4 linked regions of the Homo sapiens genome follow. The protein of the gene in region 1 interacts with the protein of each later gene in a pairwise test. Each region holds a gene or a part of one and is shown in the gene's direction. Other genes may lie near its edges.

Region 1 (7,114 bases):
AGACCCAAGAGAAAGTTGAAATGCAATACTAAGAAGCCGTAAAAATGAGCCAGGATGTGAAAGATATATATATAGGGGGGGAAAAAAACTATATATAGAGAGAAAGAACCAAAACACAAAAAGAATCAAGCAGAACTTCTGGAATTGAAAAATTTACTACAGGAATTTCAAAATACTGTTGGACACCTCAACAATAGACTAGACCAAGTAGAAGAATTTCAGAGGCAGAATGAATTTTTTAAATTAACCTAGTCACACAAAAATAAAGAAAAATAATTTTAAGAAATGAACAAAGGCTTTGAGAAGTATAGGATTATGGGAAATGACCAAACTATGACCCACTGGCATTCCTGACAGAGAAGAAGAAAAAATAAGCAACTTGGAAAATGCATTTTAACGTATAATTCAGGAAAATGTCCCTAATCTTGCTAAAGAGGTCAACATGCAGATATAAGAAATTCAGGGACTGCCTGAGAGGTACTATACAAAATGACCATCCCCAAGGCACATAGTCATGAGACTGCATGAAAGAAAAATATCTTTAAGGAAGCTAGAAAAAAGAGCCAAATTACCTATAAAGGAAGTCCACTCAGAATAACAGTGGATTTCTTAGCAGAAGTCTTACAATTTAGAAGAGATTGGGTGCCTATTTTTGGCTTCTTTTTTTTGATGGAGTCTTACTCTGTTGCCCAGGCTGGAGTGCAGTGGTGCGATCTTGGCTCATGGCAAACTCTGCCTCCCGGGTTCATGCAATTCTCCTGCCTCAGCCTCCCAAGTAGCTGGGATTACAGGCATGTGCCACCATGCCCGGCTAATTTTTTTGTATTTTTAGTAGAGACGGGGTTTCACCATATTGGCCAGGCTGGTCTCAAACTCCTGACCTTGTGATCCACCCACCTCAGCCTCCCAAAGTACTGGGATTACAGGTGTGAGCCACCACGCCCAGCCTTCTAGGCTTCTTAAAGAAAAAATGCCAGCCAAGAATTTCATATCCTACCAAACTAAGTGTCACAAAGGAGAAATAAAATCTTTCCTAGACAATCAAATGGTAAGAGAATTCATCACCACCAGACTGGTCCAACAAGAAATGCTCAAAGAAGCTGTAAGCATGAAAACAAAAGAATGATACTTGCTACCACAAAAGCACACATAAGTACAAAGCCCACAGACCCTATAAAGCAACTACCCAACCAAGACTACAAAGTAATTAACTAACAACACGAAGATAAATCACAACAGGGACAAAACCTCACATATTAACCTTGAATGTAAATGGCCTATACACTCCACTTAAAAGACATAGTGTGGAAAATTGGATAAAAATATGAGACCCAACCTTCTGCTGTCTTAAAGAGACCCATCTCACATATAATGATACCCAAACCCTCAAAGGGTTGGAGAAAGATCTCTCATGCAAATGGAAAACAAAGGGTTGCTATTGTTGTATGAGATAAAACAGACTTTAAACCAACAACAGTAAAAAAGCACAAATAAGGGCACTTCCTAATGATAAAGGGTTCGATTAAACAAGAAGATTTAACATCCTATATATATAAACACCCAACGCTGGAGTACCTAGATTTATAAAACAATTACTACGATACCTAAGAAAAGAGATGGACAGCCACACAATAATAGTGGGGTTCTTCAACAGCCCATTGACAGCATTAGACAGATCATTGAGGCAGAAAACTAACAAAGAAATTCTGGACTTAAATTGGACACATGATCAAATGGACCTAATAGACATCTACAGAATACTCTACCCAACAACCACAAAATATACGTTCTTCTCATCTGCACACAGAAGATACTCTAAGATTGACCCAATGCTTAGTCATGAAGCAAATCTCCATAAATTTAAAGAAATGAAAATTATACCAACCTTCTTCTCAGACCACAGTGGAATAAAAATAGAATTCTCAAAATCACACAAATACATGGAAACTAAACAACTATTTCCTGAATGACTTTGGGGTAAGTCATTAAGGAAGAAGTCAAAAAATTAAGGCAGAAGTCAAAAACTTCTTTGAAACAACTGAAAATAGAGGCACAACATACCAAAACCTCTGGGATACAGCAAAAGCAGTTTTAAGAGGAAATTTTATATCACTAAATGCCTACATCAAGAAGTTAGAAAGATCTCAAATTAATAACCTAACATTACACCTGAAGGAACTAGAAAAACAAGAGCAAACTAAATCCAAAGCTAGCAGAAGAAAAGAAATAACTAAAATCAGAGTAGAGCTAAACGAAATTGTGACAAATAAGCCATTCAAAGGATCAATGAAATGAAAAATTGGTTCTTTGAAAGAATAAACAAGATTTATAGGCTGCAAGCTAGATTAACAAAGGAAAAAAAAAAACCTCCAAAAAAGCACAATCAGAAATAACACAGACAAGATTACAACTAATTCCACAGAAATACAAAAGATCCTCAGAGACTGCGATGAACATCTATATTCACATGAATCAGAAAATCTAGAGGAAACAAATAAATTTCTGGAAACATACAACCAAGATTGAACCAGAAAGAAATTGAAACTCTGAGCAGACCAATAATGAGTTACAAAATTGAATCAGTAATAAAATATCTACCACCTTTAAAAAGCCCTTGACCAGATGGATTCACAGCCAAACTCTACCAGACCTGCAAAGAAGAGATGGTACCAATCCTACTGAAACTTTACCAGAAAATTGAGGAGGAGAGATTCCCTACTCATTCTACAAAAACAGTCTGATTCTGATATCGTAATCTGGCAGGACACAGTGAAAAAAGAAAACTGTAGGCCAATAGCCCGATGAACATAGATCCAAAAATCCTCAATAAAATACTAGCAAACCAAATCCAGCAGCATGACAAAATCATAATTCAGCATGATCAAGTGGGCTTTATTCCTGGGATGCAAAGATGTTTCAATATATGCAAATCAATAAATGTGACTCACCACATAAAATTAAAAACAAAAATTATATGATCATCTCAATAGATGCAGAAAAAAACATATAATAAAATCCAACATCCCTTCATGATAAAAACCCTCAAAAAACTAAACATCGAAGGAACACACCTCAAAATAATAAGAGCCATCCAGGACAAACTCACAGCCAACATCATACTGAATGGGCAAACGTTGGAAGCATTCCCCCTAAGAAATGGAAAAAGACAGGGATGCCTACTCCCACTACTCCTATTCAACATAGTAGTGGAAGTCCTAGCCAGAGCAATCAGGCAAGAAAAAGGAATAAAAGGCATCCAAATAGAAAGGGGAAGTCAAATTATCTCTGTTCACTGATGATATGATTCTATACCTAGAAAACCCTACAGATTCCTCCAAAATACTCCTAGACCTGATAAATGACTGGCAGTTTCAGGATGCAAAATCAGTGTATAAAAATCAGTAGCATTACTATATACCAACAATTGTCAAGCTGTGAGCCAAATAAAGAACAGAATCCCAATTACAATAGCCACACACAAAAATAAAATACCTAGGAATACATCTAACCAAGGAAGTGAAAGTGAAAGATCTCTACAAGGAGAACTAAAAAACACAAATAAATGAAAAACATTCCATGTTCATGGATTAGAAGAATCAATATCATTAAAATGTCCATACTGCTCAAAGCAATCTACAGATTCCACCCAATTCCTACCAAATTATCAATGTCATTTTTCATAAAATGGAATCATTCTACCAAAAAGACACCTGCATGTGTATGTTTGTCACAGCACTATTCACAATGGCAAAGTGATGGAATCAACTTAGGTGCCCATCAATGGTGGACTAGATAAAGAAAAAATGGTACATACACATCACGAAATACTATGCAGCTATAAAAAAGAATGAAATCATGTCCTTTGCTGCAACATAAATGCAGCTGGAGGCCTAAGTGAATGATCCTAAGTGAATTAACACAGAAACAGAAAATCAAATGCTGTATGTTCTCACTTTTAAGTGGGAGGTAAACAATGGGTACACGCAAACATTAAAGATGGAAACCATAGACAGTGGGGACTCCAAAGTGGGGGAGGGAGGGCGGAGGACAAGGGTGGGAAAACTGCCTATTGGGTACTATGTTCACAATTTTGGTAATGGGTTCAATAGAAGCCCAAACCTCAGTATTATGCAATATACCCATGTAACAAACCTGCACATGTGCTCCCGAATCTAAAATAAATATTTTCAAAAAGCAATTGACCTATATTATTAACATTTTAATCTACCTGTATATATGTTTTAATCTGCATGTGTTCATGCTTTGAAATATGGTACAGGTACTATGACAATCCCTGTTCTGTAGGGGAGGAAGAAGAGACACATCTCTTCCCCCACATCACAAAGTCAGGAAGGAACAGACCTCACGGAGTCCAGTCTGTCACTGGCTCATGCTTTGTGCCCTTAAAAGGCAAACTGGATAAGTGCCATTCTAGAGAATCAGACAAAATTCAAGTGGAAGAGAGGGGAGGGGAAGAAGACGTCAGCTGGGGCCTGTTTGGAGCATCCCAGCTGAGGCTGCGCAAGGAGGGAGGCACGCAGTTGTGGAATTTGTTCCCCTTTTTGCATACTGACCAGCCCTGGCAACGGAGCTCAAGGCATCTTTGTGCCACTGCTCAACAGTGAGTGATGTCATGGGCACGGCCAGGTCTTTATCAGTTCTGCCGGATAAATAGCCAACTGCACTAGGTCTGGAGAGACAGCAAGGTGCTGTGCGGCAGAGCATTTGGGGTCTCAAAGAAGCAGGTGAGCCTGGGCCCGAGGGGCTGGGTGGAGGAGCACCTTGGTGCTTCTCTGCTGGGGAAGGGACAGGGGACAGGGCATGCTCAGGAAGACAGGCAGGCTGACCCCGCCTGGAAGGCACCCAGAGACAAGAGGGGTGGGCGTAGTGACCTCGTGCCCTTTTAGGGGAGATGCTGCTGGCCAGAGGCCGTTAGGGCCCCCACTACCAACTCCATGTTACTCTCTCTCACCAGTGGCCACCACCATGGATACAGGCCCCGACCAGTCCTACTTCTCCGGCAATCACTGGTTCGTCTTCTCGGTGTACCTTCTCACTTTCCTGGTGGGGCTCCCCCTCAACCTGCTGGCCCTGGTGGTCTTCGTGGGCAAGCTGCGGTGCCGCCCGGTGGCCGTGGACGTGCTCCTGCTCAACCTGACCGCCTCGGACCTGCTCCTGCTGCTGTTCCTGCCTTTCCGCATGGTGGAGGCAGCCAATGGCATGCACTGGCCCCTGCCCTTCATCCTCTGCCCACTCTCTGGATTCATCTTCTTCACCACCATCTATCTCACCGCCCTCTTCCTGGCAGCTGTGAGCATTGAACGCTTCCTGAGTGTGGCCCACCCACTGTGGTACAAGACCCGGCCGAGGCTGGGGCAGGCAGGTCTGGTGAGTGTGGCCTGCTGGCTGTTGGCCTCTGCTCACTGCAGCGTGGTCTACGTCATAGAATTCTCAGGGGACATCTCCCACAGCCAGGGCACCAATGGGACCTGCTACCTGGAGTTCTGGAAGGACCAGCTAGCCATCCTCCTGCCCGTGCGGCTGGAGATGGCTGTGGTCCTCTTTGTGGTCCCGCTGATCATCACCAGCTACTGCTACAGCCGCCTGGTGTGGATCCTCGGCAGAGGGGGCAGCCACCGCCGGCAGAGGAGGGTGGCGGGGCTGGTGGCGGCCACGCTGCTCAACTTCCTTGTCTGCTTTGGGCCCTACAACGTGTCCCATGTCGTGGGCTATATCTGCGGTGAAAGCCCGGTGTGGAGGATCTACGTGACGCTTCTCAGCACCCTGAACTCCTGTGTCGACCCCTTTGTCTACTACTTCTCCTCCTCCGGGTTCCAAGCCGACTTTCATGAGCTGCTGAGGAGGTTGTGTGGGCTCTGGGGCCAGTGGCAGCAGGAGAGCAGCATGGAGCTGAAGGAGCAGAAGGGAGGGGAGGAGCAGAGAGCGGACCGACCAGCTGAAAGAAAGACCAGTGAACACTCACAGGGCTGTGGAACTGGTGGCCAGGTGGCCTGTGCTGAAAACTAGGTCCTCCGGGGGAGGAGGGTGTAGCTGGCGTGTCATCCTCAGGGCGCTTCCTCGCTCACGCCAGGAGGGACTTGGAGTGGCGAGCTGGGGCCCGATGGGGCTTGGGGGCAGAGTAGACATCTAGCCTCCCTAAGGGTATGCGCGCTAAAGCCCAGCTCTCGATCTCACCTCCATCCCCATCCACCCACACACTATGGATTGGGCTCTGGGAAGGGGTCAGGGTGAGAGGCTGCTCTGGAGAACAATGAGGTCCTCATAGCAGCAGGCAGCTCCTGTGTTTTCTTGAGGGTGGCAGAGGAGCTAAGAGCAGTGCCCAGGTCTGAGGGGGCTGCCCAGTGAGTGGCAGGGGCAGGAGAGGGGAGAACCCCATCCTCAGAGCTGCTCCCAGCCAGCGAGTCAGGAGCGGGGGAGACAGGGCTCCAGGGATGAGGCCGCATTCTGCTCCCACAGTGCCTTTTCCAGAAAGTTCCCATTGCTCAATAAATGTGGATCATCAGAGACATTTATGAACAATGACAGAAGAAAAATTACCCAAATAAATGTGGAAGCAAGCAAAAGAGAACAGTGTTTCCTTCTTCTCCTGTTTTGTTCTGGTGGTGTGCTTGGGCCGGGTGGGACTGGTGGATGGAAGGAGAAAACACCAGACTCTGGAGGAAAAGGGCCAAACACCAGGATGCCTGGATGCTGGGAGAGGATCTGGCTTGCAGGGATGAAAATAACAGCTGCCCTGTCTAAAGGACTTGGCCTGACACATCATCTCCTTCTATCTCTCAATAGCCCTGTGAGAGGTACCAGCATTATCCCCAGTTTCAGATGAAGGAGTGGCCCAGAGAGGTGACATCTCCTACCCGAGATCCCATAGCTGGTGGGCGATTGAAGTGGGACCAGAAGCTGGTGTCAGTTGACTCTGACACCCATGCCCCTAAGCCACTCTGCTGTTCTCCATCTGTGTGTCACCTGTGGTCACCTGGCCCAGTCAGATGAGGCTGTCTGAGCAGGACAAATGCAAACAGGCTGTGATAAGGAACAGAAGTAAATGCAAAGCACAGTGAGTATCTGTGTGAGTGCATCCTCTCCCCAGTAAAGA
Region 2 (7,025 bases), on another chromosome or scaffold:
GTGCAAGCTACAGGCAAGGAGTCACAAGGAAAGGAGCAAATTGACAGCGAGTCAGTGAAGGAAACAGGGGAGCTTCCAATGCCCAGAACCTGCACACAGTCCTGCAGCCTCTGTCTCCCTGCCTTGCTGCCCCGCTTCAAAGCCAGCTTCTGCTGCCAAAGGACTCTTGGGGTTGAAATGCTTGTTGCACAGTTACACATCAGCTGACAGTCCTTCTCTGATTTAATGAACTTCATCTATGAAAAATACCCTCAACAGGCCGGGTGCGGTGGCTCAGGCCTGTAATCCCAGCACTTTGGGAGGCCAAGGCGGGTGGATCCCCTGAGGTCAGGAGTTTGAGACCAGCATGGCCAACATGGTGAAACCCTGTCTCTACTAAAAATACCAAAATTAGCCGGGAGTTGTGGTGGACACCTGTAATCCCAGCTACTCAGGAGTCTGAGGCAGGAGAATCACTTGAACCCGGGAGACAGAGGTTGCAGTGAGCCGAGATTGTGCCACTGCACTCCAGCCTGGGTGACAGAGTGAGACTCCATCTCAAAACAAAACAAAACAAAACAAAAACCCTCAACAGAATGTCAAAAAAAAAAAAAGAAGAAAGAAAGAAGAAAAGAAAAGAAAGAAGAAACCTGGGAAATACCATCATCTTTCTGCTTTTGATAATAACAATAACTAGCATTTATTGAGCATTTACTCTGTATCAGACACTCCTCTAAGTACTCTCTGTATATTATCTCATTTAATTCTCACAAAAATTCATGAGCTAGGAATGATAATTATTCCCATTTACTAGACAAAGAAGCTAAGGCATAAATTGGACACAGTTATACTTAGTATGGGGCAGAGTCACAATTTGAACCTGGCTGGGGTGACCCTGGAGCCCCCAGCAGGCCGCTCCCTGTTAAGGTTTCCAAGCGCACTCTTGGGCTGGTAGAACAGCCAGCAAGACGAGGGCAGGGGGAGGGATGGTGTCAGAGAGGCATCTCCCTGAAGAATCTCAGAGGACACTAAGTGTTGGGCAACATTTGGTTTGGTTTCGTGTCTTTCGTGGTTCACTTGGAGGCTTTAATCCCCCACTTTACATAGCCCTCTCCACGCTGTTTCTGTTCATTTGACAAGTATCTACTGAGCCGACACTTTGAGGTCCGTGGGTGATTCTGAGGAGAACTAGACACAGTGCCCATCCTGGGAGATGCATAATTAGGTGGGACAGGGGTGAAAATCAATCCAACAAACCAGAATACCAGGCAGAGAGCGCCCTCGTGGAGGTGCAGAGGCTCTGAGGAAGGCCTCACAGCAACAAGGACAGGCAGGTGTTCCCCTGCAGGATGAGGGTTCACATGGGCTGGGGAGAGAAGAGGAGGGACCGCCCACAGAGGGGACCATGGGCACAGCACTCTTACTTCATGATTGTGTGGCCTTAGAAGGCTCAGAATGACAACCCCAGCTGCTTTGCGTTCCCGCAGCTCCAGGTCCCTTCTCCAGCCACCCAGCCCCAAGATGGTGATGCTGCTGCTGCTGCTTTCCGCACTGGCTGGCCTCTTCGGTGCGGCAGAGGGACAAGCATTTCATCTTGGGAAGTGCCCCAATCCTCCGGTGCAGGAGAATTTTGACGTGAATAAGGTAAAAGGCGAACCTCCCGTTTGTTTTGCTGCCTCCGCTGTGAATAAGCGTTCTACAAGGTTCAATGTAATTATGCTGCTTTAATTTCCACTGCACACCTTGGGACAAGTATTTATCTTATTTGGGGTTTCCCCAAAGCAGACATCTGCTGAGATAAAGACTGCAGGCAGAGAGGTTTGGGATGATCCCGGGACGCACGAGAGCAGGTGGGAAGGTGAGTCGGAGACAGCACAGAAGCAATAAAGGGTGCGTTCCTGAGCTGTCGCCCTGGGCCGTCAGGGTCAGTCACACTGGGCACCCTCTGAGGACACGTGGAGCATGCCCCTCCGATTGTCCCACAGCTGCTGCCAGCAGGTCATGGGAGCATCCGTGGCTCTAGCTGAGCCCCCTGGCAGAGGAGAGACACAGGGTCTCAGGTGGGAGGCTGGCAGTGTCTGGGAATTGCCTACCGTGGCTGCGGTGAACTCAGAGGTGGGCTGAGGGGAACAGGACCAGGGAACCATAGTAGCTGCTACAGAGCTATTATCCTTGTTCTACAGATGCAGCATCGGAATCTCCCTCCCCAGCTCACGCAGCTGGTAAATGCAAGTAGGATTCAAAACCAGGCTTCTCAGCAGTGCAGGGCACCCAAAGGTCACTCAAACAGGGCTCAGGAAAGCCCAAAATTCTCCAGGGGGCTTTCTTGGTATCTGCACCAAAATGTCATCAATACAACGAGCTCCTCCATAGATGGTCTTTCTTCCTGGGGTTTAGCGGGAGGGGAAGGAAGAGGGCGGCAGAAAGAGGCAGCTATTGGAGGACAGGACTCACAGGCTCCCACTGTTGCTACTCAAGCCTGGAATCTCACCCTTAAGACTTCCTCTCCTTAGGAGAAGGTTTGGATCTCTTTTAAGAATGGCAACAGTAACATCGAAGTTGTTATCATACACTCGCACCTCAAGGTGAATGAGTGTTGGGACCTCTGAGGGGACGCTGGGTGGGAGAAGGAGCACCATCCATGGGATCAGGAGATACAGGTGTGGTAGGAAGAGGCCATAGAGTACACTAACGTCTACACTGACTTGCTCCACTTACAGGCTGATCCCTTTATTCAGGTAACTCTGATAGACCACAGAGAGGCTTTAAAGAAAACATCCAAGGAATCTGAGTTATACTTTCGCTTTTGGATACAAATCCCAAAGCACTTTGGAAATGATAACTGATCTGTATTTATAGAAGTCCTTTGAGAATTAAAGCAGGATTTAAAAAATAGCAGCTTTATTGAGATATAATTTGTATAGCACGTAATTCACTTGTTTAAAGTAGCTTTTCACTTTCCATTGTTGTTAGTATCATCACAGAGTTACGCAACCATCACCACCACCATCGATTTAGAACATTTCACTGTTCCGAAAAGGAACCTCATACCCATTCACGGAGTCTCCATCTCCCCTCCAACCCTTCCAGCCCCAGGCAACCACTAATCTACTTTCTGTCTCCGAATTTGCCTATTCTGCATATTTGATAAAAATGAAATCATACTATATGTGGTCTTTTGTGACTGGTTTACTGAACGTTTTCAAGGTTCATCCACGTTGTAGCATGTATCAATACTATATCCCCTTTTATTGCCAAATAATATTCTTGTAGGAAATCGTTATAGGAAATCAATTGACTGTATATGTGAGAGTTTATTTTTGCACTCTCAGTTCTATTGATCTATATGTCTATACTTATGCCAGTACCACACAGTGTTGATTACTATAGCTTTGTAGTAATCAAAGCCTTGAGGTAAGCTTTGAAATAAGAACACATGTGTCCTCCAACTTTGTTCTTCTGGTTATTCCGTGTCCCTTACATTTTTATATGAATTTTAGGATCAGCGTGTCAATTTCTGCAAATAATCCAATTGGAATTTGATACAGATTGCATTAAATCTGAAGATCAATTTGGGGAGTACTGCCATCTTAACAATATTAAGTCTTCTAACTTGTCAACATAGTGTATCTTTCCATTGAATTAGGTCATCTTTAATTTCTTTCAACAATACTTTGTAGTTTTCAGAGTATAAGTTTTATGTTTCTTTGGTTAAATTTATTCCCAAATATTTTATTCTTTTGATGTTATTGTAAATGGAATTTTCTTCTTTTTCTTTTCTTTTCTTTTTTTTTTTGAGACGGAGTCTCACTTTGTCACCCAGGGTGGAGTGCAGCATCACCATCTTGGCTCACTGCAACCTCCGCCTCCCGGGTTCAAGCAATTCTCCTGCCTCAGCCTCCCAAGTAGCTGGGACTACAGGTACACGCCACCACACCCAGCAAAGTTTTTTTGTATTTTAGTAAAGACGGGGTTTCACCATGTTGCCCAGGCTGGTCTCGAACTCCTGAGCTCAGGCAATCCATCCGCCTCGGCCTCCCATAGTGCTAGGATTACAGGTGTGAGCAAGCCACCGTGCCCGGCCTTTTAAATGGAATTTTCTTAATTTCATCTGCAAATTGTTCATTGCAAGTAGAGAAATATGTTTATATATGTATATATTTTTGTGTGTGTGTGACAGAGTCTTGCTCTGTCACCCAGGCTGGAGTGTAGTGGCACCATCTCAGCTCACTGCAACCTCTGCCTCCCAGGTTCAAGAGATTATCCTGCCTCAGCCTCCCGAGTAGCTGGTATTACAGTTGCGTGCCACCATGCCCGGCTAATTTTTAAATTTTTTATAGAGATGGGGCCTCGCCATGTTGGCTATGCTGGTCTTGAACTCCTGACCTCAAGTGATCCACCCGCCTCGGCCTCCCAAAGTCCTGGGATTACAGGCATGAGCCACTGCGTCTGGCTGAGAAATATATTTGATTTTTGAATATTAATCTTGTATCTTGTAACCTTGCTTAACTCATTAGATCCAATAGTTTTTGGTTTTGTCTCTGTTTTAGATTTCTTAGGATATTTTATATGTCATCTGCAAACAGATAGAGTTTTACCTCTTCTTTTCTAGGATTATTTTTCAATACTGACCAGAGATCTGAAAAGATTAAGAAGCCTTTGCAAAAATAATATGAGATCATAAGGAAGCTCTGAGTTTCCTCTTTTCTGAAAAATCATGCTTCCTTGGTTTTTACTATGGGGCACTAAACTCACTTTAACAGAAATAGAACAGATTTGAATGCACCATAGAAAATGGAGCTTCTTCCGAGAATGTCTATGAAACCAGTTAACCTCTAACCTTATTCTTTGGTACTTTAAATGAATGTTAAGTTCAGTGGCTTTAATTGAAAGCTGTGCTTTAATAAGTGAGTAGAACTTTATGGTCATGAATGTGGCATACATTTGAGCGGAAAGCCGTGGCTGAAGCAATACTCACCTGTGTGCAGCATCCTCTCTTTTCAAGTTCTGACTCTGAAGGTGAGCGCATCTCTTTTTGTTTTTAAATTTCTAGAATAGGCCAGGCGCGGTGGCTCACGCCTGTAATCCCAGCACTTTGGGAGGCCGAGGCAGGGGGATCACTAGGTCAGGAGATTGAGACCATCCTGGCCAACATGGTGAAACCCCTTCTCCAGTAAAAATACAAAAATTAGCCGGGCATGGTGGCACGTGCCTGTAATCCCAGCTACTCGGGAGGCTGAAGCAGGAGAATCACTTGCACCCGGGAGGCAGAGGTTGCAGTGAGCCCAGATTGCACTACTGCACTCCACTCTGGTGACATAGTGAGACTCCATCTCAAAAAAACAAAATTCTAATTAGTATTTTAACTAGATAAATATATTTACATTGTTCAAAATCCTAAAGGTGTAAAAGAATACACCACATAAAGTTTCCCTCCCACCTCTGTACCTCAGTTTCCCTCCCCAGTAGCAACTAGTAAAAACCATGTATTATGTAATTTTACAGATAATATATACATATACAAGCAAATACTTAATAACTGTGGTAAGCAGAAGAGTGGCTTCCAAAGGTGTCCACGCCCTAACCTTGTGAATGTTACTTTGCATGGGAAAAGGGCTTTTGCAAATGTGATCGAAGTTATGAGCCTTGAGATGGCCAGATTAGCCTTGATTATCCAGGGGAACTCAATCTAATCACATAAATCCTTAAAAGCAGAGAATCTTTCCCAGCTGTGATAAGAGAGAGAGGTTTGATGATGGCATAAGAGTCAGAGAGATGCAATGTGAGAAGGATCTGACTTCCTTTTGCTGGCTTTGAAAATAGAGGAAGCCTCAAGCCAAGGAATGTAGGCGGCCTGTAGAACTTGGAAAAGGCAAGGAAACTGATCCTCCCCTAGAGCTCCCAGAGGGAAACACAGCCAACACTTTGAGTTCAGCCCAGTGAGACCTGTCAGACTTCTGACTTACACAACTGCAAGATAATAAATCTGTGCTGTTTGAAGCTTGTGCTAATTTATTATAGCAGCAACAGAAAACCAACGTAATAAACATTTTCTCCATTTTTACACAAAAGGTGCCTTAATAGATACACTATTTTGTACCTGACTCTTTTGTCATTAAATATTAGAAATCACTGCATACCACTCTTTTGAAAGAGGAAGTAAAATTCCATTGTCTGGATATGCCATCGTTTACTCACCCAGCCCCCTACTAATGCTCACATAGGCTGTTTCCTATCTTGTATTATTACAAACGGTACTGTAATGAATAACTTTACACATACATCATTTCTTATATCAGGAGGATGCATTCCCAGAAGTGAAATTGCTGGGCCAAAGAGTATAATATGTATTTTTAGCTTTGCTAGATATTGCCAAACTGCCCTCCGCAGAGGTTGTAAACTGGTATGGTCTCCCTGCAACGCGTGCCAGGCAGCCTAGGAGGGCCTGGTTCCCTCGACCTTCCCCACACAGTGGCAGCTTCCTTTAAAGCTAACTGTATACACCTGAAGTCTGGACTGAGCGCAGGCCCCTAGAGAAAGCATGATACAGACCTTTCAAATCCCCACCACCTCTCCAAAGCCTTGATGACTAAATCCCTCCTCAGGGTCAGATGAGGAAAGTTCCGTGCGCTCTGGAGTCCTAGCTCCCCACAGCGAACACATCTGACTTTGCACAGGATTCAAAGATGACTTGTAGAATTGTGCACTGTTTCAGATGAAAGGTATTTCCCATCATCCCCTTTTTTTACAGAGTCTAGAATGTCACAGCGATTTTGGCTGAAGTGGGCCCTGAGAAGAGCCCTTTACTCAGCATTCACCCCCTGCCCGCACATCCCATCCTAGTCACAGATTCTCATTGCAATCAATCTCTTGCCCAGTTGCCACTGGGAACAATGAGGCCCATTTTGTCTGGCTTCCCCAGGACAGGGCTCTGCGTCTGCACGACAATGGGGAAGAAGTTGCAGGTCCCCAGAGAACCACAGGGTTTTGCTCTGCTTGTTGTCTCTGCAGTATCTCGGAAGATGGTACGAAATTGAGAAGATCCC
Region 3 (7,025 bases), on another chromosome or scaffold:
CACTCCAGCCTGGGTAACAAGAGTGAAACTCTGTCTCAAAATTAGCCGGGCCAGGTGGCATGCACCTGTAATCCCAGCTACTGGGGAGGCTGAGGCATAAGAATTCCTTGAACCCGGGAGAAGGAGGTTGCAGTGAGCTGAGATTACACCACTGCACTCCAGCCTGGGCGACAGAATGAGACTCTGTCTCAAGAAAAAGAAAGAAGTTCAGCCCAGCGCAGTGGCTCACACCTGTAATCCCAGCACTTTGGGAGGCTGAGGTGTATTGGGGGAAATTCAGCCAGATATCGGGCGAAATTCACCCCTGATATTTCACGTAGGTTCTTTTCTGTATTACCTAAGTGTCAGCTGGTCTGAGAAATAAAGGGACAGAGTACAAAAGGGAGAAATTTTAAAGCTGGGTGTCCGGGGGAGACATCATATGTCGGCAGGTTCCGTGATGCCCCCTGAGCCATAAAACCAGCAAGTTTTGATTAGTGATTTTCAAAAGGGGAGGGAGTGTACCAATAGGATGTGGGTCACAGAGACCACGTGCTTCACAAGGTAATAGAATATCACAAGGCAAATGGAGGCAGGGCCAGATCACAGGACCATAGGACCGGGGTGAAATTAAAATTGCTAATGAAGTTTCGGGCACGCATTGTCATTGATAACATCTTATCAAGAGACAGGGTTTGAGAGCAGACAACCAGTCTGACCAAAATTTATTAGGCGGGAATTTCCTCGTCCTAATAAGCCTGGGAGCGCTATGGGAGACTGGGGCTTATTTCATCCCTACAGCTTCGACCATAAAAGATGGCCGCCCCCCAGAAGCAGCCATTTTAGAGGCCTACCCTCAGGGACGCATTCTCTTTCTCAAGGATGTCCCTTGCTGAGAAAAAGAATTCAGCAACATTTCTCCCATTTGCTTTTGAAAGAAGAGAAATATGGCTCTGTTCCACCCGGCTCACCGGCAGTCAGAGTTTAAGATTATCTCTCTTGTTCCCTGAACATTGCTGTTATCCTGTTCTTTCAAGGTGCCCAGATTTCATATTGTTCAAACACACATGCTCTACAATTTGTGCAGTTAACGCAATCATCACAGGGTCCTGAGGCGACATACAGCCTCCTCAGCTTACGAAGATGATGGGATTAAGAGATTAAAGATAGGCATAGGAAATCACAAGGGTATTGGTTGGAGAAGTGATAAGTGTCCATGAAATCTTCACAATTTATGTTCAGAGATTGCAGTAAAGACAGGCGTAAGAAATTACAAAAGTATTAATTTGGGAAACTAATAAATGTCCATGAAATCTTCACAATCCACGTTCTTCTGCAATGGCTTCAGCTGGTCCCTCCGTTTGGGGTCCCTGACTTCCCGCAACAGAGGTGGGAGGATCACGAGGTCAGGAGATCAAGACCATCCTGGCCAACGTGGTGAAACCCTGTCTACTAAAATTACAAAAATTAGCTGGGCGTGGTGGCGCCTGCCTGTAATCCCCCCTACTCGGGAACCTGAGGCAGGAGAATCACTTGAACCCAGGAGGCAGAGGTTGCAGTGAGCCGAGATCACGCCACTGCACTCCAGCCTAGGGACAGAGCTAGACTCCATCTCAAAAAAAAAAAAAAAAAGAAGAAAGAAAGAAAGAAGTTCATGATTTGCACAGAGGTCACGGGGTCCCTAATGATGTGAAGCATGGTCTATGTGACTCCAGATGCTGGCTCTGATGAAAGAGGGCAGCAGGGCTCTGGGCAGTTTAGGGCCGAGGCTCCAGGCCCAGACCCACTAGATCATTCTGCCTGAGGGCGAAGGCTGGCTTCCTGCCTTTCCTACTGAGGGGCATCTGAGTCGCAGCCTCTATCCTCTCTCTGCCTCAACCCAAGGAGACATAGGGGAGGCCAGGGTGCCCACTCAGGGTGGGGAGGCCTGGGTTCCAGCCATACCTTTGCTCATATTTGCTGGGCAACCTTGGGCATATTGGGATTTTATCTGGGCCTCAGTTTCCTCATCTGTCAGTGGAGGAGAGTTGGAGTTGATGGAGTCCAAGGGGCCTCTTGCTCTCCCTTCGCCCTGAGATCCTGTGACCCAGGCCTGGGAGAAGGAAGTGGGCACACCAAGAGTGCTGGGCTGGGATTGATGACAGCCCACAGCCAGGGAAGATTGAAGTCAGAGTTCAGCCCTGCCCTGGCGTATTCAGAGCTGACACAGAGGCCCTATCTCTATCCTCCCTGGCTCCAAGGCAGGGTCAAAACCCAGTTCTATTTTTTGCCCTCAGGTTACATGAGAGCTAGAGGCTGAGCACAGGCATGAGCTCTGGGCATGAGTCTGCACTGGGAAACCTGACCTGTGGGCACCCCTGTGCAGGCCACAGGGCTGTGAAGGTCCTAACCTCAAGGCCCATGCTGCCCCTGCTGAGAAAGAGTCAGTGCTTCTCACACTGGGACCCAGGCAGCCCCAGCCTGCAGGAGGGGCAATGGCCGGCCAGGCCTCAGGCACTTGGGCATGGAGTGGCATGTGCCTGGCATCGGGCTGCATCTTGACTCCTGCCAGCTCCCTCCTTCCCTCCCTCCCTAGTCTTAACTCCTGACCCCTGGGAGGTTGAGTCCTTGCTCTGGGCTCCTGCGGTATCCTCTGCTCCCCCTATCATGGTTCCAAATGCCATGTATGATCACCACCTGGTTACCTGTCTGCTGCCTGCCAGACAGATTTGGGGCAATTCTATGTTCCTGGAACCTAGCCCTGGGGCCTTGCAGAGGATACATAATTTGTAAATTATAATTTTTAAATTTTATTTTATTATTTTTTTTTTTGAGACAATCTCTCTCTGTCGCCCAGGCTGGAATGCAGCAGTGCAATCTCAGCTCATTGCAACCTCTGCCTCCTGGTTTCAAGCAATTCTTGTGCCTCAGCCTCCTGAGTAGCTGGGACTACAGGCTCATGCCACCGTCCTGGCTAATTTTTAATTTTTTTTTTTTTTTTTTTTTTTTTTTAGAAACAGGCTCACTATGTTGCCCAGGCTGGTCTCAAACCCCTGGCCTCAAGTGATCTTCCCTCCGGGCCTCCCAAAGTGCTGGAATTACAGGTGTGAGCCAACATGCCGACAGATTTACTGATGGCTCTGACAGGCGAGCTGATCTCATAGACTGGTTGGGCTGCCTGATTCAGGAGGGAGTTTAGGGGGCTAGAGGCCCCACTAACAGAGATAGGAGCCCTGCAGAGATGGGGAGGAACAGACTTGAGCCAGGGCCTGAGATAGGCTTTTTTTGCTTGTTTGTTTGTTTGTTTATGAGAGGGTCTTGCTCTGTCATCCAGGCTGGAGTGCAGTGGCTCACTGCGGCCTCAATTTCCCAGGCTCGGGCAATCCTCCCACCTCAGCCTCCCGAGTAGCTAGGACTATAGGCGTGCCTCCATGCCCAGCTAATTTTTGTATTTTTTGTAGAAATGGGGTTTCATCATGTTGCCCAGGCTGGTCTCCAACTCCTAGACTCAAGTGATTTACCCACCTCGGCCTAAAGTGCTGGGATTACGGGCATGAGCCACCACACCCAGCCTGAGATAGGTTTTGAACAAAAGGTTTCTACTGCAGGAGGCTCCAGGAGAGGCACCAGGGCCAGATTCAGACGTGAGTGTACGTGGCTGATGCCAGCTCCATTCCTGAGAGCAGAGTTTGTGGGAGCAGAGGGCAAGTATCCAGAAAGAAGGCTGGGCATGGTGGCTCACGCCTGTAATCCCAGCACTTTGGGAAGCCAAGGCAGGCAGCTCACTTGAGGTCAGGAGTTCGAGACCAGCCTGGCCAGCATGGTGAATCCCCGTCTCTACTAAAAATACAAAAAAAATTAGCTGGGCATGCTGGTGCATGCCTGTCATCCCAGCTACTCGGGAGGCTGAGGTAGGAGAATCTCTTGAACCAGGGAGGCGGAGGTTGCAGTGAGCCGAGATATCACACCATTGCACTCTAGCCTGGGCAACATCTCAAAAAAAAAAAAAAAAAAGGCCAGGCACGGTGGTTCACACCTGTAATCCCAGCACTTTGGGAGGCCAAGGTGGGTGGATCATGAGGTCAGGAGATTGAGACCATCCTGGCTAACACAGTGAAACCCCGTCTCTACTAAAAAATACAAAAAAATAGCCAGGTGTGGTGGTGGGCACCTGTAGTCCCAGCTAGTCGGGAGGCTGAGGCAGGAGAATGGCGTGAACCCGGGAGGCGGAGCTTGCAGTGAGCCCAGATAGCGCTACTACACTCCAGCCTGGGCGACAGAGTGAGACTCCGTCTCAAAAAAAAAAAAAAAAAAGTATCCAGAAAGAGGAGAGCCCAGGCAGCTGTTGGCAGGGCCAGCGACTTCCCTCCTTCTTGGGCCAGTTGTAGGCCCAGGGAGCCTGCACAAGGAGAGGGGTTATGCCATCCTCCTACCCACAGAAAGGGTGGGAAGTGGGGCGCCAGCCTGCTGAGCTTGCTCTCAGCTGGACTCCCCCGCCCGTCCGCATCACAGAGCAGGCGGACTCAACCCCTCTGAGCTCTCAGGCTGATGGGGGAGATGCACTCAGATATAGAGATCATGATGGCAGAAAAGAAGTTCTAGAGTCAAAGTGGTCACACGTGTTGGGGAGCGGTTGCTTCTTCCTGGGGAGCGCTGAGAAGGCTATCTAGGGGAAGAGACATGCAATGATGATGACAATAATGTAACCATGAGAGCAAACATTTGTTGGGGCCTCCCTAGGTGCCCACACCATGCCCAGCTCTTCATACTGAAGGAGGAGGAAAGGGTGATCTGGGAATGGGAAACAGGCCGTGCCAGGGCACAGGGTGTCAGCCAGCAGGAGCAGGGTGTGGGGATCATGCCAGCTGCCGGGGTGAGCCGGCATCAAGGACATCACACAGGGCATCAGGCCCTGTGTTCAGCACCTCACATGTGAGGGGGCTGTTGCTACCCGAGCCACACGACTTAAGGAGACTGAGGCGTGGAGAGAGGGAGACAGTATCACACAGCCCGTGAAAGAGCAAAAGGGCCAAGCCAATAGCAAGCAGACAGGGTTTAGAGAAGGGTCAGCTGTTGTCTGCATGTGGCAGAAACTTGGGCATGTTCCAATAGAAGGAGAGGTGGCAATGAGGCAGGACAAACAGGCTGACATTTTGGGGTCCCCAGGTAGAAGCCAGTCACCGCCTCTGACAGCGAATGGCTGCCCTTTCCCTGGGCTGCAGGGAGGGGAGGTGGAGGATTGGGTGGGATGTACAATAGGTGTGAGGAGATGGGTGGGAAGTTTAGGACCTTCCTGCCTGGCTGCCTTGCAGAGGGTGAAATTTACCAAAGGTGAAGTTCACCTGAAAACCCAACCGCCTTCTTGTGATGGGACGTTTAATGTGCAAGCCACAGGTAGCTCATAACACTGTTAACTTTCGAGCCTGCGAGCAGGAGGCATTCTGATTATCTGTTCATTTCTAGAAACGCTTGAGCCAGAGGGACTGTTTGTTGCCTAGAGAACAAAGCTAAAACATCGGAATGAAATTGAGAGAGAAATAAAATTTCCTATTCTAAGCATAGCCTATGAGTAAGCATCTCTGTGGCTTTTTGGAAAGTGTGTGTCAGAAAATGCATAGAGGCTCACAGAGGCCTGGGAGGGGACCTGTGTCGACTACTCATCTCTCTCCACTAACTTGGCAAAGGCCCCATGCCATCATTGCCCTCATGCAAATAATGTCATTTCAGCCAGGCGCAATGGCTCACACCTGTAATCCCAGCACTTTGGGAGGCCAAGCTGAGCAGATTGCTTGAGTCTAGGAGTTTGAGACCAGCCTGGGTGAACCAGATGACGAAACCCCATCTCTACAAAAAATACAAAAATTTTCAGGGGTGATGGTGCATGCCTGTAGCCCCAGCTACTTGGGAGGCTGAGAAGGGAGGATCGCTTGAGCTCGGAAGGCAGTAAACTGACATCGTACCACTACACTCCAGCCTGGGCAAGAGAACCAGACCCTGTCTCAAATAATAATAATAATGTCATTTCGCCTGGGCAAGAGAACCAGACCCTGTCTCAAATAATAATAATAATGTCATTTCGCCTGGGCACCCCTTTGTGAATTGGCTGGTGGTGGCATGTGTACACGTAGGTACACACAGATACACAGTCACACATAGGCAAAGCAGCAAGATCCCCTCCTGCCTTACAAAGTGAAAAGGTTTCCTCTTAGTCCTGGATTCATCTTGACAAGCCACAGTATTAGCAGGAAAAAAAAAAGATGCTGATTATCAGTTATAAACAGTGAGTGAGAGCCAAGATCCCACAATGACCTTTTGTCCCCTTGTCACTCCAGTGGTCATAAGTGAATGAGGCAATGAATGGGTCACACTTTTGACCCAATTTATTATTTTCTTTTATAAACTCTTCTTTTTTAATGCAAAGGCCCCCATGTGGCTAGTAAGTGGCAGAGCTGGGACCCTCTGCTGGCCTGCCCTTTCATGGTGGCTGGAACTGCAGTGTGGGAGTGATAGGGGCTGAGGCGGGAAAGGTGGTTGGGGCCAGTTGATGCAGAGTCTTCGAAGCTGGGTGAAGAACCCTGGGCTGGGTGCACTGGCTCAACGCCTGTAATCCCAGCACTTTGGGAGGCCGAGGTGGGAGGATCACCTGAGGTCAGGAGTTCGAGACCAGCCTGGCCAACATGGCGAAACCCCGTCTCTACTAAAAATACAAAAATTAGCCAGTTGTGGTGGCGCATGCCTGTGATCCCAGCTACTTGGGAGACTGAGGCAGGAGAATCACTTGAACCTGGGAGGCAGAAGTTGCAGCAAGCCGAGATCATTCCACTGCATTCCAGCCTGGGCAACAGAGCAAGACTCTGTCTCCAAAAAAAAAAAAAAAAAAAAAAAGAACCTAGGACCTTCAGGGCCAGGGCAGCCCCTGAAGATTTATTTTTATTTTTTAGAGACAGGGTCTTGCTCTGGTCATTGAGGTGGAGTGTAGTAGCATCATCATAGCTCACTGTAGCCTTCCTCTGGGCTCAAGTGATCCTCCTGCCTCAGCCTCTCAAAGTGCTGGGATTACAGGCATA
Region 4 (7,463 bases), on another chromosome or scaffold:
CCCAAAGATACAGGAGAAACTGTCCATTTTTAGGCTTCAGTTCAACAAAGTATGGATGGCCGTGTAGAAATACGGTTGGACAAAAGAGCCTGATCTAATGCTGATAGACTGAGTGGGGAACCCAGCGAGGCCTGTCTGTCAAGATTCTTTTCGGCCTCTCTGCGCAGCATTCCTTCCTTCCTCATATGGCGCAGGACTCTCTCTGGATGGGGGTCTTCTGACCTACAATCAGACAAAGGTCAAATAATTTCCTATGGCCAATTTTACACAGAAAGAAAGAGGAAAGTTAGAGTAATATTTTTAGGTTTTAGGGCAGGCTTTTGGTGAAGAGGGATTGTAGTTTTTATAGCTAGCCTTGGGGGAGAATAAGGGACCAGAGACAGGAGGGCAGGAGAAGGTCAGAGAGAAATGTTTGCTTCCGAGGGAGGCCTTCATTTCGGGGTATTGTTTTCTGAGACCCTATGAGGCACACTCCCAAGGCCAACAGAGGGAAGGAAAATGGAAGCGAGGCAGGCAAGGAGGGAAGCAAGTACAAGGTGTCACGTGGCTGAGCTGGCCACAGCTTCACCAAAGACTGGGCTGGCTGCTTAGTCATGTGAGATGTTTCCAGCAGGCCATAAAGAACAGAACATGATTCAAAGTCCTTCATCTAGAGAAGAAAAAAAAAAAGAAATGTGTCTGCTGGCTCCTTCCTGTCTCCCGCCTCCCATACTGTTCATTCCACCTTGACTTCAGGTGGTGCAGGTGCAGGGGCAGCAAGGTCACCTGCCCCATTGGGTGGTACTTCAGCTGAGTCTGGAGATGGTGGGAGGTGCCAGGGCCTCCATGGTCCAGTTGGGTTGGACAAGGGTGGGGCAGCTGCTGTCTCCACCTCAGTGAACACAATGGGGCCAGGCTGGTGCCCAGACTCACGCCAGGAAAGGCCAAGTCAGCCACCGGCAGTAGGGGATGAATTCATGACTGTGGCCCAGTAGCATCCAGGATCTCCATGAGCAAGAAGCCAAGGGCCTGGAGAGAGGCAAGGCTGAGCGAATCCGAGGCAGCGCATTCACCGGGGCTGATACACCAGAGACTTACAACTTTGAGGAGCATTGCAGAGCCTGTTCCCCCTTTTAGACATTCAGATCACAGTAGCAAATTAAGGGGTCCGAGTCGTCCCACCGTAAAGAAAGCGAATTAACTTTAGATGAGGACCATCAAGTTCATGGTGCTTGGAATGCTGCCTGACCCTAAGTCTTTCATTTTGTGTGTGTGGACTGAATTTCCCAACTTATTCATATGACATCCTCCGGAACTAGAGTTATGTGGAACTTGCTTTAGGACAGTGCTCAAAAACCCTCACAACCTCTGCCCATTTTCACTTCTGGGAGTTTGGTAGGTTTTCTAAGGCTAACTCAGTTCCTAACTTTGAATTTCAAAGAATCAGATTTTGCTCTCATTTCCAGTCCTTTCTCAAGTTCTGAAGCATTTTGTTTTAGTTTTTAAAACACGGTGTAATACACACACACACACCCTTAAAAGTGCACAAAACTCATCGTAGAGTTTAATAACCTATTGTAAAATGAAACCTTATGTTACTACCACTCAGGTGAAAAAAAAAAAAGAACATTGCCAGCCCTCAGAAGCCCTCCATGTGCCCCTCTACCACATCACAGCTCCTCTTTCTGATTGGGGCAGCGGAAAGAGGAGCGGTCAATTTTTTTGTTTTTTTGACAATCACATACTTGTTTTTCTTTATGGTTTGGTCTCCTAAAGTATCCTCCCATAGAAAACTGAAGGGATTTGAGTCCAGAAGGAGAAATTTGAGGCCAGAAAGAGAGAGGTTTTCATCACCTTGAAATCACAAGAATCAGTATTATAACGTGTGTATGTTCTGTTACTTCTCCAGGCTACTGATCATGTAAGCAGCAAGCATTTCAGCCCCGTATCTTGTCACTTATGGAAGAGAAGAGAGAGCAGTTGAGACTTTGGGTAATCAGTTAAAGATTAAATTCCAGGAAGATACCTGTTAATTGCAACTAAGGGGATCTTTCCTTTGCCATAGGAAGGGCTCTTCCTGTACTTGCAAACTAGAACCCTTAAGATGGTATGAAGGGTTCTTGATCAACATGCTTCCTTTAAAATCATGCTGCAAGAGAGGACAGCTGGCTTCAAGGGGGTTCTTTCAATGAATCTTGAATACAGCTCCATGGGCTGCTACATCAGAATTGCCAGGAAAGGTTTATTTTTCCCCAAGTCTTTAATTCTGAAACTTTTTTTTTTTTTTTTTTTAGACAGAGTTTCACTCTTGATTGCCCACGCTGGAGTGCAATGGCATGATCTCGGCTCACTGCAACCTCTACCTCCCGGGTTCAAGTGATTCTCCTGCCTCAGAATTCTGAGTAGCTGGGATTACAGGCGCCTGCCACCATGCCTGGCTAATTTTCTTATTTTTAGTAGAGACGAGGTTTTGCCATGTTGACCAGGCTGGTCTCGAACTCTTGACCTCAGGTGATCCGCCTGCCTCAGCCTCCCAAAGTGCTGGGATTATAGGCGTGAGCCGCCGCACCCAGCCAACATTTTTTAAATACTGAAAAGTAGAGGGAATAGTTATAGTGTACCCCATTTACCCATCACTCAGTTTCAACAGCTGGTGACATATTTATTTCTTCTATACCAGTACCGTACTCTCCCCACTGGGATTATTTTAAGGCAAAACCCAGATGACATTTTATCCCTAAATACTTTAGATAAAGGTGTTCTTTGAAAAAAATCATAACCTCAGGACCAGCCTGGCCAACATGGTGAAACCCTGTCTGTACTAAAAATACAAAAATTAGCTTGGCATGGTCGTGGGCACCTGTAATCCCAGCTACTCAGGAAGCTGAGGCAGGAGAATCACTTGAATCCGGGAAGCAGAGATTGCAGTGAGCTGAGATTGCAGTCGAGCCTGGGCGACAGAGACAGAAATGAAACTCTGTCTCAAAAACAAACAAACAAAAAAACCACTATACATAAAAATGAACAATGATGCCACAATAGCACCAGAGAATTTTATAAATACAGATTCCCAGGCCCTGCCCCAGACCTACTGAATCCTGGAAATATTCAGGCTCCACACCCAGAGATTCTGGTTCGGTTGGTCTGATGCAGGGACCTGTAACCTGCGTTGTAACACCTTCTCCAGGTAATGCTGAGCCTGCTGGTGCTCAGAGTAGACAGACCTGGAGAAAACCAGGGTGTCTGAGGTTTTCCAGAAGAAAACCAGAGTCCAGAGAAGCAGAGAGGCACTCAGTGAGGACCCAAGCAGAGCGGGTGCACCTCACATCCTCACTCCTGGCACCCCGTCTCCTACAAGATGAGAGACTGAAAGAGCCCCTTCCTGTCCCCAGTGGTGTGGGCAAGAGGCCTGCACCTCTGACTCTTGGCTCTGTGAAAGGCCATACCCACCAAGCCTATGGTCCTAGCGACAAAGGGTGCTGGGGAGACGAATTGACCAGACAGGGAGGTCTCCAGCAGCTTCTTTCTACACAGAGGGCACCTGTCAGAGGCCAGCGTGGGGGCCACAGGCTCCCCAATCCCCAAGAACCGCCAGGGAAGGAGGCTGCTTCAAGTGGGTGGGGCACCAAGCTGGCCAGGAAGGACAGGGCTTCTCCCAGCGGTACCAACACGGTGGCACCTCCGGCCTGCATCTCCCAGGCTTGCTTGTCAGGCTTCCTGGGGCTCCCAGGAGCCGCTGCGGGGGAGGGGAGAAGGGGTGGCAGCAGTGGCAGTGGTCGTCTCTGCTCCGATGGTGACTGCCGATGACACTGTTCTCTGTGCGGGTGGAGACAAAGCCGGCCACTCCAGATTCTCCTGCGCGCAGGAGAGGAGGAGCTGGCGCTGCTTCAGTGGCGAGGATGGGTCGATCAGTCCCAGCCGGTCCTAGGGAGAGACACTGCCCCAGCCTGAGGGCGGCGCAGCCCACCCCACCCCAGGACCCTCCTAGCAGGAGGACAGGAACGCAAGCCGACCTCGGGGGGTCTCCGGCCTGAGAGGGGAACATGATCAAGCCCAGGGCAGCCGCCAGTCGGAGGGGGCAGACGCGGCCCCAGTAGCCTCTGGAGACCCTCTTCCGAGGCAAGGAGCCACATTCCTGCCGTCGGGACCACCAAAGCGGATTTCTACAAACTAAAGTCGAGAACTTTTCGGCGGCGAGGCGGCGCACCCCGCGCGGGAGAGGGGGCGCAGGCGTCACCCCGTCCTCACTCAGCAACACCCGGCGCCGCGCCGGGCGAAGGCTGGCAAACTTCTCGCGGCCGGCAGGTGGGCTCCGCGGGCCCCATGGGCGCAGGCACAGGTGTGCGGGGCCACAGCCGGGCCTTTTGCAGCCGGCGACCGCCCCCCCTTCCCCGCGGGCTTTTGCACACGACGCGCCGACGGCAGCTTCACACGGGTTGGCGAGGGCCGGATAAAGCCGGCGGCCGCGGGGCGCAGCGGCTGACCCGAGACACGGGAGCGCTTGGCACGCGGAGCCAGAGCCGGAGCTGCAGCCGCAGCGGGAGCCGGGGGAGCTCAGGGGCCGCAGGAGCCGGGCCGGAGTGAGCGCACCTCGCGGGGCCCTCGGGGCAGGTGGGTGAGCGCCACCCGGAGTCCCGCGCGCAACTTTCAGGGCGCACTCGGCGGGGCGGCTGCGCGGCTGCCGGGACTCGGCGCGGGACTGCATGGAGGCCAAGGAGAAGCAGCATCTGTTGGACGCCAGGCCGGCAATCCGGTAAGGCGAGAGCCTGGGGACGGGCGGGAATTTTGGCGGCAGCCGACGCACCTCCGCATTTGCCATCCTAGCAGTGGTTGGTTTTGGCTGCGGCTTGAGCTGGGACCATGCAGGAGGGGTGGGGTGAGGTGAGGGAACGAAGATAATGGGCTGTGGCCCAAGGACCGTCTCTCCCTTGGGGCGCAGCCCAGATTCTGACCCCTGCCCGCGGGGGGCCTGGGGCCGGGGGATTGGCGGTTCCCATGCCTGGAGTCCCGCCCCGCCCAGCACTTTGCCCCAGGCAGCCCCGCCCCGGGGAGGCCCTGTGTCCCAAGTGCGCTGGAGGGGGCCTGCTGTTCTCCCAGAGCCTGCGCTCTGTTCCTTCCCCGCGCTCCACTGGACAGCACGCCCCTTGGCCGGTTCCCAGGGTCTTCACCTCCTCTGGCCTCTGAAGGGCCCCGGGCCCCAGGACTCCCATTCCCCTATCATCCCCGTCTGAATACAGGCTTCTCACCTCTGGTTTGTCGAGCTCGGAGCGTCCTTAGCTATTTTTCCCAGTGGACACAAGGCCTCACAGAGAAATGGGACTAGAGTCGGCCCTCCTTACCTCATCTCAGAGCTGAGCGTTCCCTCTCTTCCCCTCTGGCCAGGTCATACACGGGATCTCTGTGGCAGGAAGGGGCTGGCTGGATTCCTCTGCCCCGACCTGGCCTGGACTTGCAGGCCATTGAGCTGGCTGCCCAGAGCAACCATCACTGCCATGCTCAGAAGGGTCCTGACAGTCACTGTGACCCCAAGAAGGGGAAGGCCCAGCGCCAGCTGTATGTAGCCTCTGCCATCTGCCTGTTGTTCATGATCGGAGAAGTCGTTGGTAAGCACTTTTGGGCTAATTAAATGAAGTTGGTGCATGGATAGACTGGATGTTCCCAGCAATACTGACACTAAAAGCCCCAATTACTGAACACACACTACAGTAAGCCTTTATATACACATTATCTGATGCAGGTCTAACAACAACCTGTGTTCTCACATGGGTGACGTTATTCTCCTTACTTTACAGATGATGAAACTGAGGCATGTTCAGGTGAAGTAACTTGCCAAAGATCACGCACAACTCGTAGCTAAGGGAAGGCCTGAATTCCTAGAAGGGAAGAGCATTTACTGAGTATCTGCTATGTTTTCCAGTCCCTATTTGAACTTGATGTGCACATTCACCCTCTAAGTAGATATTGGTGGCCCATTTCACAGAGAGTGGAAGTTGAGGCTCAGAGAGAGTAGGTCACTTGTCACGGTGGTACAGCTCATGGGTAGAGAGATCTTGAGCCCAGAATGTCCTCTTCCAGAGCCTGTGGTCTCCCTGCTGCACACACAGTCTTGGGAGCCAGCTCTCTGGGGGAGCTGATAAGGACCCTCCACCCTGCAGGTGGGTACCTGGCACACAGCTTGGCTGTCATGACTGACGCAGCACACCTGCTCACTGACTTTGCCAGCATGCTCATCAGCCTCTTCTCCCTCTGGATGTCCTCCCGGCCAGCCACCAAGACCATGAACTTTGGCTGGCAGAGAGCTGGTGAGGATCGCGGTTTGGCTGGAGATGGGGTTGAGAGAGAGGGTGGGTTAGAACAGGGGTTCTTAGGTGGCTGTAATGGGTGGATCCCCCCTTCCTCCCCTGAGTGAGGCCAGGAGGGTGATCTGGATGGGGGAAGAGGATGTCAACCATGGCCTCTGTCCTCTGGGAAATCCTAGTCTGATGGGGGAGCCCTGGTCCCAGTCATCCAGGAGCTCTCAGTCTGCAGGGAAGCAAAGTTGACCTTCCTAAGAAGTGCAGTAGCCAAGCTTCAAGAACAAATGACAATGGCATTAACACTGCACATAACTCTGTGGATCAGCTCTGGGGGGAGGGGAAGGCCAGCAAAGGCTGCTGGAAGATATAGGCTTTAACCTCTCTTCCGTTCACCCTGGACTGCATCGTCACCTTCCTCTTTGTGGGAGATGGCCCAGCCTGTCTTCCCCAGAAGCCTCAGTTTACTAGCTGAACAAAAGGCACATACTTTAATAAGTCAGCTTCTTTACATGTACAACCAAAAAGGTGGACTCAGATGATGACTTATTAGTTCCTTCTAGCTCTTACATTCCTAGATATATGAGGGGTGGGGTAAGGGGCAGCCATACCGGCCATACCTTCAGCAGAGCCCAGTGGGACCCAGGCCCTGACTTTGTGTGGGAGGTGGGTGGGGAGGATCCTGAAGGAAGGGGGAAGACTCCTTAGCTCCAGGCCCATGCCAAGGTGGGTGTTGGGGTTGGGTTCTTCCTCAGAGATCTTGGGAGCCCTGGTCTCTGTACTGTCCATCTGGGTCGTGACGGGGGTACTGGTGTACCTGGCTGTGGAGCGGCTGATCTCTGGGGACTATGAAATTGACGGGGGGACCATGCTGATCACGTCGGGCTGCGCTGTGGCTGTGAACATCATGTGAGTGGGGCCCCAGTTTCCCTCGTCTCCCCTCCTCCTCCCGCCTCTCACACCCACACCTATGTCTGCTTTGCGGAAAGAGACTGTGCCACTTTCCAGCATACGCTACAGGGACAGAACTTCCCTAATGGTCTGAGCTCTGGCACCTGGAACACCTGGGTCCTACCTTAGGCCTAGGCCAAGAACACTGGGAGCTGTAAATCGGAGTCTTCATCCACTCTACCCACTCCCTGATACATGTCAGGGACTAGCCTTGGTGGCTTCATACCTGAAGTGGGGCGG

Evidence for each region.
Region 2: the proteins of GPR42 (region 1) and APOD interact in binary tests that used the Homo sapiens proteins (3 or more experiments, as listed by UniProt).
Region 3: the proteins of GPR42 (region 1) and SLC35E4 interact in binary tests that used the Homo sapiens proteins (3 or more experiments, as listed by UniProt).
Region 4: the proteins of GPR42 (region 1) and SLC30A2 interact in binary tests that used the Homo sapiens proteins (3 or more experiments, as listed by UniProt).

The regions. Positions count from the first base shown.
Region 1 is NC_000019.10:35,366,374-35,373,487, forward strand, and holds GPR42 (G-protein coupled receptor 42), read left to right. Parts: upstream 1-4,694; 5' UTR 4,695-4,745; intron 4,746-4,975; 5' UTR 4,976-4,986; coding exon 4,987-6,027; 3' UTR 6,028-6,589; downstream 6,590-7,114. UniProt on the Homo sapiens protein: G protein-coupled receptor that is activated by short chain fatty acids (SCFAs), such as propionate. Hence may play a role in the regulation of whole-body energy homeostasis and/or in intestinal immunity.
Region 2 is NC_000003.12:195,573,937-195,580,961, reverse strand, and holds part of APOD (apolipoprotein D precursor), read left to right. Parts: intron 1-1,466; 5' UTR 1,467-1,500; coding exon 1,501-1,623; intron 1,624-6,990; coding exon 6,991-7,025. UniProt on the Homo sapiens protein: APOD occurs in the macromolecular complex with lecithin-cholesterol acyltransferase. It is probably involved in the transport and binding of bilin. Appears to be able to transport a variety of ligands in a number of different contexts.
Region 3 is NC_000022.11:30,638,776-30,645,800, forward strand, and holds part of SLC35E4 (solute carrier family 35 member E4), read left to right. Parts: intron 1-7,025. UniProt on the Homo sapiens protein: Putative transporter.
Region 4 is NC_000001.11:26,043,116-26,050,578, reverse strand, and holds the start of SLC30A2 (proton-coupled zinc antiporter SLC30A2), read left to right. Parts: upstream 1-4,460; 5' UTR 4,461-4,682; coding exon 4,683-4,732; intron 4,733-5,361; coding exon 5,362-5,582; intron 5,583-6,134; coding exon 6,135-6,281; intron 6,282-7,027; coding exon 7,028-7,181; intron 7,182-7,463.